Homo sapiens: one gene and its partner. The protein of the gene in region 2 purifies or fractionates together with the protein of the main gene of each other region. This does not show direct contact. Each region holds a gene or a part of one and is shown on either strand. Other genes may lie near its edges.

Region 1 (4,286 bases), on a different chromosome or scaffold from region 2:
CTGAATCTTGAGCCCACGTAGAATCTGCAGAGGGAGGCCGGGCGCAGTGGCTCACACCTATAATCCCAGCACTTTGGGAGGCCGAGGCGGGTGCATTACCTGAGGTCAGGAGTTCGAGACCAGCCTGACCAACATGGTGACACCCCGTCTTTACTAAAAATCCAAAAAAACTAGCTGGGCTTGGTGGTGCATGCCTGTAATCCCAGCTACTTGGGAGGCTGAGGCAGGAGAATCACTTGAACTGGGAGGCAGAGATTGTGGTGAGACAAGACTGTGCCACTGCACTCCAGCCTGGGCGGAGCGGGACTCCGTCTCAAAAAAAAAAGAATCTGCAGAGGGAAGTTAGTGCCTTACAGAGGGCTTCTGACTAGGAAGCCCCGGGACTGTGGCCGACCCCTTCCTCTCCCTGCCTCACCCCTGCAGAAAGATCTGCAGAAAAAGCTGGAAGGGGTGGGAGGGTGTGTGCAGGGGTGGGGACTGGGGCTATGCAGGTTCCAGACCTGGTCTTTGGCACCCTCTACAGGACAGTTCCATTCCCAGACCTGAGCTTTGGACAACTGAATCTTATGCCCCTTCCCACCCATGGAGCCTGGTGCCGGAAGTTCCCAGGACTTACCCACCGTCCACCACGCCACATAGCAAGCGTCCTCAGTGTCTGCAGACCAGAAACACCTCCCTTGTGTCTCAGCACTGGGCCACCTGCTGAAACCCCAAACTGCCTGCCCCATTGTTTGAGACCCAGTCAGGCCTTGGCTCCAAAAGTCCTCTGGGACTGCTGCTGGCCCCCAGGGTCTCTCCTGACTGCACCTCGGTCCCGGAGCTCCCACACCGCTGAGCCCCGAGCCCGATGTCCCGATCCAGCTCTGGGTCCTTTACGGGGGCCTTGCTGGCCTTTCCTAAGGGAGGTGTTTTCCCGAGGACAGGTGGACTGCTCCTCAGACTAGGGGCCCTCGGAGGGCCAGGCCTGGGCTTCTACCTCCTCTCGCAGGCTGGTGTTTCTCTGCAAATATGGCTCGTGTGTCCTCCTTCCTCTCAGACTGGGGGCCCCTGAGGACTGGGCCTGAGTTTCCCTTTCCCCCTTCACAATGGGGGTTCCCTGAGGACTGACCCAGGGCCTCCCCCGTCCCCTCCACCTGGCTGTTAATCTCCAACACTTCCACCTCCAGTCCTATTCTGCACAGCTCTCCCCAGCGCTGGGGGCTCAGAGGCCTCTTCAGCCTTCCCCAGGGCTGGGGCTCAGGGAGGGCTTCCTCAGGCGCTGGCCCCAGAGTCAGGCTGCACATTGGCTTGGAGGACAGGCCTTTCCTCTGGGACTGAGAGGCCCAGAGTGCCCACCCAGAGCTCCACCTCTGACCTCACAAAGGCCTGCTTCAGAACTCGGTCTCCACGGCACTGCTGGCCGGACGAGGGATGTTATTTTGGGCAGTGCATCTGGACTTGGTTCAAGTGGCACCAGCCAAACCCCTGCCTTACTGACCTCTCCCCTGGAGGAGCAGGAGCAGCGCTCGAGGCCGCCCTGGGAGAGCTGAGAGGCAGGCTCTGGACTGGGGACACAGGGATAGCTGAGCCCCAGCTGGGGGTGGAAGCTGAGCCAGGGACAGTCACGGAGGAACAAGATCAAGATGCGCTGTAACTGAGAAGCCCCCAAGGCGGAGGCTGAGAATCAGAGACATTTCAGCAGAGTGAGTGGGGCTCCAGGCAGGGTGGGGATGGGGCAGCCTCCTCAGCGCCCAGATCTGGAAGGGCCATTCCCTGGGTACCATACAGGGAGGAGGTGACTGAGGGATTGTTTGGGGAAGGAGCCCCGTCTGGGAGTGGAAGTCCCGGCTTTCTTGTTATGGTGCAGTCCTGTGTTGCTGTGTGACACAGGCACATACACCCTCTCTCTGGGCCTCAGTTTCCTTACCTGTAAGTTGGTTGTTGGGAGGACCAGCGGTAGAGCAGAGATGGCAGGGATGCACTGAGCTGGGCTGTCAGCAGACCATGGGGGTGGGACGAGGAGAGAGCTGAAGACCACCGGCAGTGGACCACAGCGGGAGGCGTGCAGGCAGGAGACGGGTCAGCTGCCGGCTTGCTGGAGTCATTCCTCCCACGCAGTCCCCTCCTGAGGGGCTGGAGCTGGGGCTGGAGGGTTTCGGCAGTCAGGGCTGGAGATAAGAGTCTGTGCTGGAGCTAGAGGGAACTGGGCTAGAGAATCAGGAGGACAGACAGGGTGAGGGGACTTCGGGCTACCTTCATGCTGTCAGTTAGAGATAAAGATAGGAGTACAAAGGGGAATTTTTGGGTGAGGTACACGGGTGAAATGAGTTTTCAGGGCCTCATCCTGTGTGTTCACCTTCTGTGTGTGTGTGTGTGCATGCGTGCATGTGTGTGTGTGTGCAGGTCCTGGACAGTCGCAGCTTAAGTTAGCAGCAAGAGGACTTGAGGTTAAAGGTATAGCACGCAAATATGAGGCTGGAGCCACTGAGTAGAGGCTGAGGGCATCTCCACAGTCCAAAGCCGGGCTGCAGACACGGAAGGTCAGCAGGAGCACTGGAGGGTCTGGCCTGGGGCTGGGGTCCTGGGGCCAGCATGGGTGGGGTGGGGCTCCAGGGCGTCGCCTCATTGGCTGAGCACCGCTCCTCCCTCCCTGTTCCTTGGCTGGGTTAAGGGAGTGGCACTAGCAGGAGCTGCCCCAGGGCTTCTCCCCTGGGGACCAAGGTCTGATGGAAGTGTGGGGCCAAGTTCTGTGTCCTCCAGCCCTAGTGACCTCTCTTTGGCTCCTCAGCATCTACAAATCTGAAAGACAAAACATGGTTCAAGCATCCGGGCACAGGCGGTAAGTACCCCACCCTCTTCTCACCCTCCAGCCCCCTGTCCTTCACCCAGCCCACTTCAGTGCCCTCCCTGTTCCATCCTCAGCCTCTCCCTTGGGGCAGCTGTCCCCACTCGACCTCCTCCTCCCCACCCACCCACTCGCCTCTGAGGTCCCAGAAGAAGAGCATCTTCCACCTGTTGCCTGGGCTGGGTCCTGGGGTGAGGGGAGGCTCAGAAATACTTGGATGAGGGTCAAGGCATGCAGGTGGCCTTCAACTCAACTGCACTCAGCACCTCTCACCCTCTCAGGCTCAGCTGTCTTTGGGGTGAACAAGAGCCAGTCCTTGCAATGGCCAAGGCCCAGCCTTGTTAGCTTTCTGGCCTCCCCACTCCAGCCCCCTGCTCTCCCTCCTCCAGCCACACTGAGTTTCTTTTCAGGTTTTTTTTTTTTTCCGAGATGGAATCCAGTTCTGTCGCCCAGGCTGGAGTGCAATGGCATGATCTTGGCTCACTGCAACCTCCTCCTCCCGGGTTCAAGCGATTCTCTTGCCTCAGCCTCCTGAGTAGCTGTGATTACAGGATTACAAGCACACACTACCACACCCAGCTAATTATTATTATTATTATTTTGGTATTTTTAGTAGAAATGGGGTTTCGCCATGTTCGCCAGGCTGTTCTTGAACTCCTGACCTCAGGTGATCCACCCGCCTTGGCCTCCCAAAAGGTTGGGATTACAGGTGTGAGCCACTGCACCTGGCCTCACACTGACTTTCTTTGCTTTCTTCAAACATGCTGAGAGTCCTCTGGTGACTAGTCTCCCTCCACCTGAGAGGCTTTCTGCAGCTAACATACAGCCCACTCTCGTCTCCTTCATGGCTTTGCTCCAAGGCCACCTTCTCAACAAGGATTACTCTGGCTGCCCTATTTGAAATCACACCCCATCTCCAGCCCCTGCACTCCCAATTCCCCTCTCCTTGCTCTGTTTTTTTCCGTAGGAGCTGGTACCTTCGCTTATACAAATGTACTTACTTATTACATTTCATTGCTGTCAGCTCCACGCAAGCAGGGATATTTGCCTGTTGTACACTTGGACGGAGAGAATGAATAGTGCCACTCTGTTGACATCATTGCCTCTAGCCTACATCGCTCTCCAGGGCTTTAGATCCTGTTTCTAGAGACCCACTGGTGTCTCACAGGCAACTCAGCTCCTAGATGGAAACAGCCTCCTCCGCCCCCTGCAAGTCCACTCCTCCTGTGCTCTTGGCTCAGTCAGGGGTCCCCTTCTCCTCAGTTGCTCAAGCCAGAAGTCAAGGTCATGTCCTTCATACTTCCCTCTCCCCCATGTCTCACATCCAGTCACCAATCTCCTAAAATATCTAGAATGTGCACAGCTTCCACCATTCTTTCTACCACCACCCTACTCCCCCATGGCCATGTCAGGCCACCACCCGCCCATTCTTCAAAACCCCCTTCAGGCCTCACCTCCCATG
Region 2 (3,500 bases):
TTTATTCCATCATCTGCATCTATGTATAATAAAGGAAAAATAAAGGCATGAGAAGAGCTAATTTGGTTCTTTGCCATCTTCTTCCACCACATGCTGCATTCTGTTTGCCTGGCACTTGGATGATCTTGTGGCAAGCCCTGTGTTATTGCTCTGATGTGGGACTGAGTCACCACTCCCTCAGAGGAGTCAGATCTGTGAGATGAAATGTGCCATCTGCACTCCAGATCCACTCACATAGCCAGTCAGGGAACTGCAGACAGGGAATGTACAAATCACGGTGGGTTTGCTGGAGAGCTTTTTATCCTCACATTAACTCTTGCATAGCAGGTAGTGCCACAGACTCTTTTTTCTGTTTTGTTTTGTGGATTTTTCTCCTTTAGAACACAATAACAAAAGTTTTGCGAATTGTTGGGTTTTTCCTCGGAGTCTAGCGTACAGTTGTTTAAATCACCATGTACTATATTTGCTTATTATTGCCAGCCTCTTTCTCCAGAGGTAACTGCTTATTAGCTCCTTAGGTGAGACTCTCCCCCTCCTTTTTATTTTTCATCAGATGAAATGAAAACACTAGGAGAGTAAGCAAAAGTTGTAAATAAAACCTTCAAATTCAGCAGCCCATGCAAATGCTTTCAAAACAGACCTCCCCCGTGGGGATCGCACTGGGAGAGAAGAAGGCAGCATTATTTTTCCCCAGAGCTGGGAGCTATTTCCTGAAGTAGTCCTAAAAGGGGCTGAAGAAATGTACTGTTTGTTTTTATAGCCTGAAGCCTGTCCTCAAAAGCTGCCTTATGTTGCATGGTGTGTACAGGATGTGGGGGCGGTGAGAGGGTTAATAAAAGAAAATGCCTTGTGAACCCAGTCATTCCATGTGACATTTTCCTGTAGGAATTTATGCCTGCCTAGTACTGGTTTAACTTGGGTCTTCCTGTGAGCAGCCAGGGAAGACAGTGTGCAGTTTCTGGGGGAAGGAAAAGAGGTCCTCCTTCCTCTTAAATGCTTTTCTCATCTATGTAAGGAGCATTGGGCTGCATGTTTGCCCCTTTCTTCAGAGCTGTAACCCTCCTGTCTGTGTGCCGTTCCAGGTCACTCAGTTGTTCAGAAAGAGGCCAAGAAGAGATGCTGCCGCTCTTCCACCATCTCACCCCTCGTTGGGGTGGTTCAGGCTGCAAAGCCATTGGTGATTCCTCCGTTCCTAGTGAATGTCCTGGAACCCTGGACCATCAGAGGCAAGCCAGTAGGACACCCTGCCCCAGGCCACCACTGGCAGGAACGCAAGGGCTGGTCACAGACACCAGGGCTGCACCCCTGACCCCAATTGGCACCCCTCTGCCTTCAGCCATTCCCTCTGGCTACTGCTCACAGGACGGTCAGACAGGGCGACAGCCTCTCCCGCCCTACACCCCTGCCATGATGCACAGAAGCAATGGTCACACCCTGACCCAGCCTCCCGGTCCAAGAGGCTGTGAGGGCGATGGCCCAGAGCATGGGGTAGAAGAGGGAACGAGGAAGAGGGTCTCGCTGCCTCAGTGGCCACCTCCTTCTCGAGCAAAGTGGGCCCACGCAGCCAGAGAGGACAGCCTTCCTGAGGAATCCTCAGCCCCTGATTTTGCAAACCTGAAGCACTATCAAAAACAGCAGAGTCTTCCAAGTTTATGCAGCACTTCTGACCCAGACACACCTCTTGGGGCCCCGAGCACTCCAGGGAGGATCTCCCTCCGAATATCTGAGTCTGTCCTGCGGGACTCCCCGCCACCTCATGAGGATTATGAAGACGAAGTGTTTGTGAGGGATCCGCACCCCAAGGCCACGTCCAGCCCCACATTTGAACCTCTTCCCCCACCCCCACCTCCTCCACCGAGTCAGGAAACCCCGGTGTATAGCATGGATGACTTCCCTCCACCTCCTCCCCACACTGTATGTGAGGCGCAGCTGGACAGTGAGGATCCCGAGGGGCCACGCCCCAGGTGAGTGAGCAGACTGGGCAGCTTTCCCCCACTAACAGGAGAGTGTCATGCCCCAGGTGGCCCAGGTCCTTCTGCTGGCCACAGAAGAACCCTGGCATGGAGATGTTTCTATACAGCTCAGCTCAGGACACTGTTGATCTGTTTGCCTCAGGAGGTAGTTGGACCAGTGTCATTGGGTACTGAGGAGTCAGGGTGGCAGAAATGAAAGCTGGGACCCAAGGGGCACATTTCACTTCTGGGGACAGGATAGGCTTAGGCGGTCCAAGTAAATCCCTCCTCCCTGGATGAGTTCTGAATCAGTTAGGAAATAAGACAAAAGAGGAGGGCATATAGAAGACAAAAACATCACTTTTATTACTGACAGAGCTAACATTAAAGAATATGGCTTCAGATTGTAAGTGGGTCTCTTGATACTGAACCCCCAAGTTAAACAGCTTTACCTACCTCATCAAAGGTCATGTTAGACACACAAATACACATAGATATTAATATATACAGCCTTGAGGCAGCCTCAGTCTCAAAAGAGAAGAGAGACTGGGATGTGAATGCTCAGCTTCTCTTTCCAAAATCACTCCATGTCCATAGGGAGGAATAAAGAGTAGGGCTCAAGGTCAGTAATGTTTAGGGAAAACCTCTTGGAAGCTAGGAGAATGAGAAAGAAGCATTCCCCAACACATAGTCCCTAGAACAAGTAATCTCTCAAAACACCAAAAAAACACATTGCCTGACAGCACCTTTTGAGTGGCTTTCTTTAAACACCACAAGAGTGACTTACTACCACTACCCCTGTTAACCTAGACCTTTCAGAAATCTCTGGAATCTAACAGCAACATTCACCAGAACTGAATTCCTAGTCCATCTTCCTCAGGAGATGACAACCTCCTGACCAGCTGCTGGGCTCAGGAGCCCCTTTAGAGTGCTGTTGTTTTCTAAAGAAGGGGTTGATCTCAAATGTGACTATCTCACCCTACTCCTATGTATATATCTATGTATGTTTGTGTGTCTAGCATGACCTGTGACTAGGTAGGTAAATGTTTTTAGTTTCGGGGTTCAGTATCAGGAGACCCACTTATAATCAGAAGCCATATTCTTTAACATTAGCTCTGTCAGTAACATGTGGAAGATGTGGAAAGCTACAGCCCTGATGTGGAAAGCTTCTCCCTCAGTCTTTCTCCACCCTCTTATCATCACCCTTCTCTTATCACTCTCTCTTTCTCTCTCTCTCTTTTTTTTTTTTTTTTAAATATCCCTGGCAGCTTCAACAAACTTTCTAAAGTGACAATTGCAAGGGAAAGGCACATGCCTGGTGCAGCCCATGTGGTAGGTAGTCAGACACTGGCTTCCAGACTCCAAACTTCTATCAAGGGTTCAGAGGCTGAGTCCACACCACCCTCCTTCATGAGCGTTCACGCCCAACTTGCTGGGTCTCTTGGTGGGCAGCCAGCACCCATCCAGACTCAAAGCCTCAGCCATGATCCAGTCAGTGGAACTCAGGGTTTAGAAAAGAAAGTCAGTCCTGATCCTCAGAAGAGTTCA

What was found. Proteins that work in one complex are often made in the same cells at the same time.
Region 1: the proteins of SHROOM3 (region 2) and AQP7 purify together in Homo sapiens (pull-down; one study listed by IntAct). This does not show direct contact.

What each region holds. Positions count from the first base shown.
Region 1 is NC_000009.12:33,399,769-33,404,054, reverse strand, and holds the start of AQP7 (aquaporin-7), read left to right. Parts: upstream 1-1,486; 5' UTR 1,487-1,682; intron 1,683-1,906; exon of another isoform or gene 1,907-2,534; intron 2,535-2,767; 5' UTR 2,768-2,792; coding exon 2,793-2,818; intron 2,819-4,286. UniProt on the Homo sapiens protein: Aquaglyceroporins form homotetrameric transmembrane channels, with each monomer independently mediating glycerol and water transport across the plasma membrane along their osmotic gradient. Could also be permeable to urea.
Region 2 is NC_000004.12:76,753,229-76,756,728, forward strand, and holds part of SHROOM3 (protein Shroom3), read left to right. Parts: intron 1-1,082; coding exon 1,083-1,964; intron 1,965-2,294; exon of another isoform or gene 2,295-3,220; coding exon 3,221-3,500. UniProt on the Homo sapiens protein: Controls cell shape changes in the neuroepithelium during neural tube closure. Induces apical constriction in epithelial cells by promoting the apical accumulation of F-actin and myosin II, and probably by bundling stress fibers.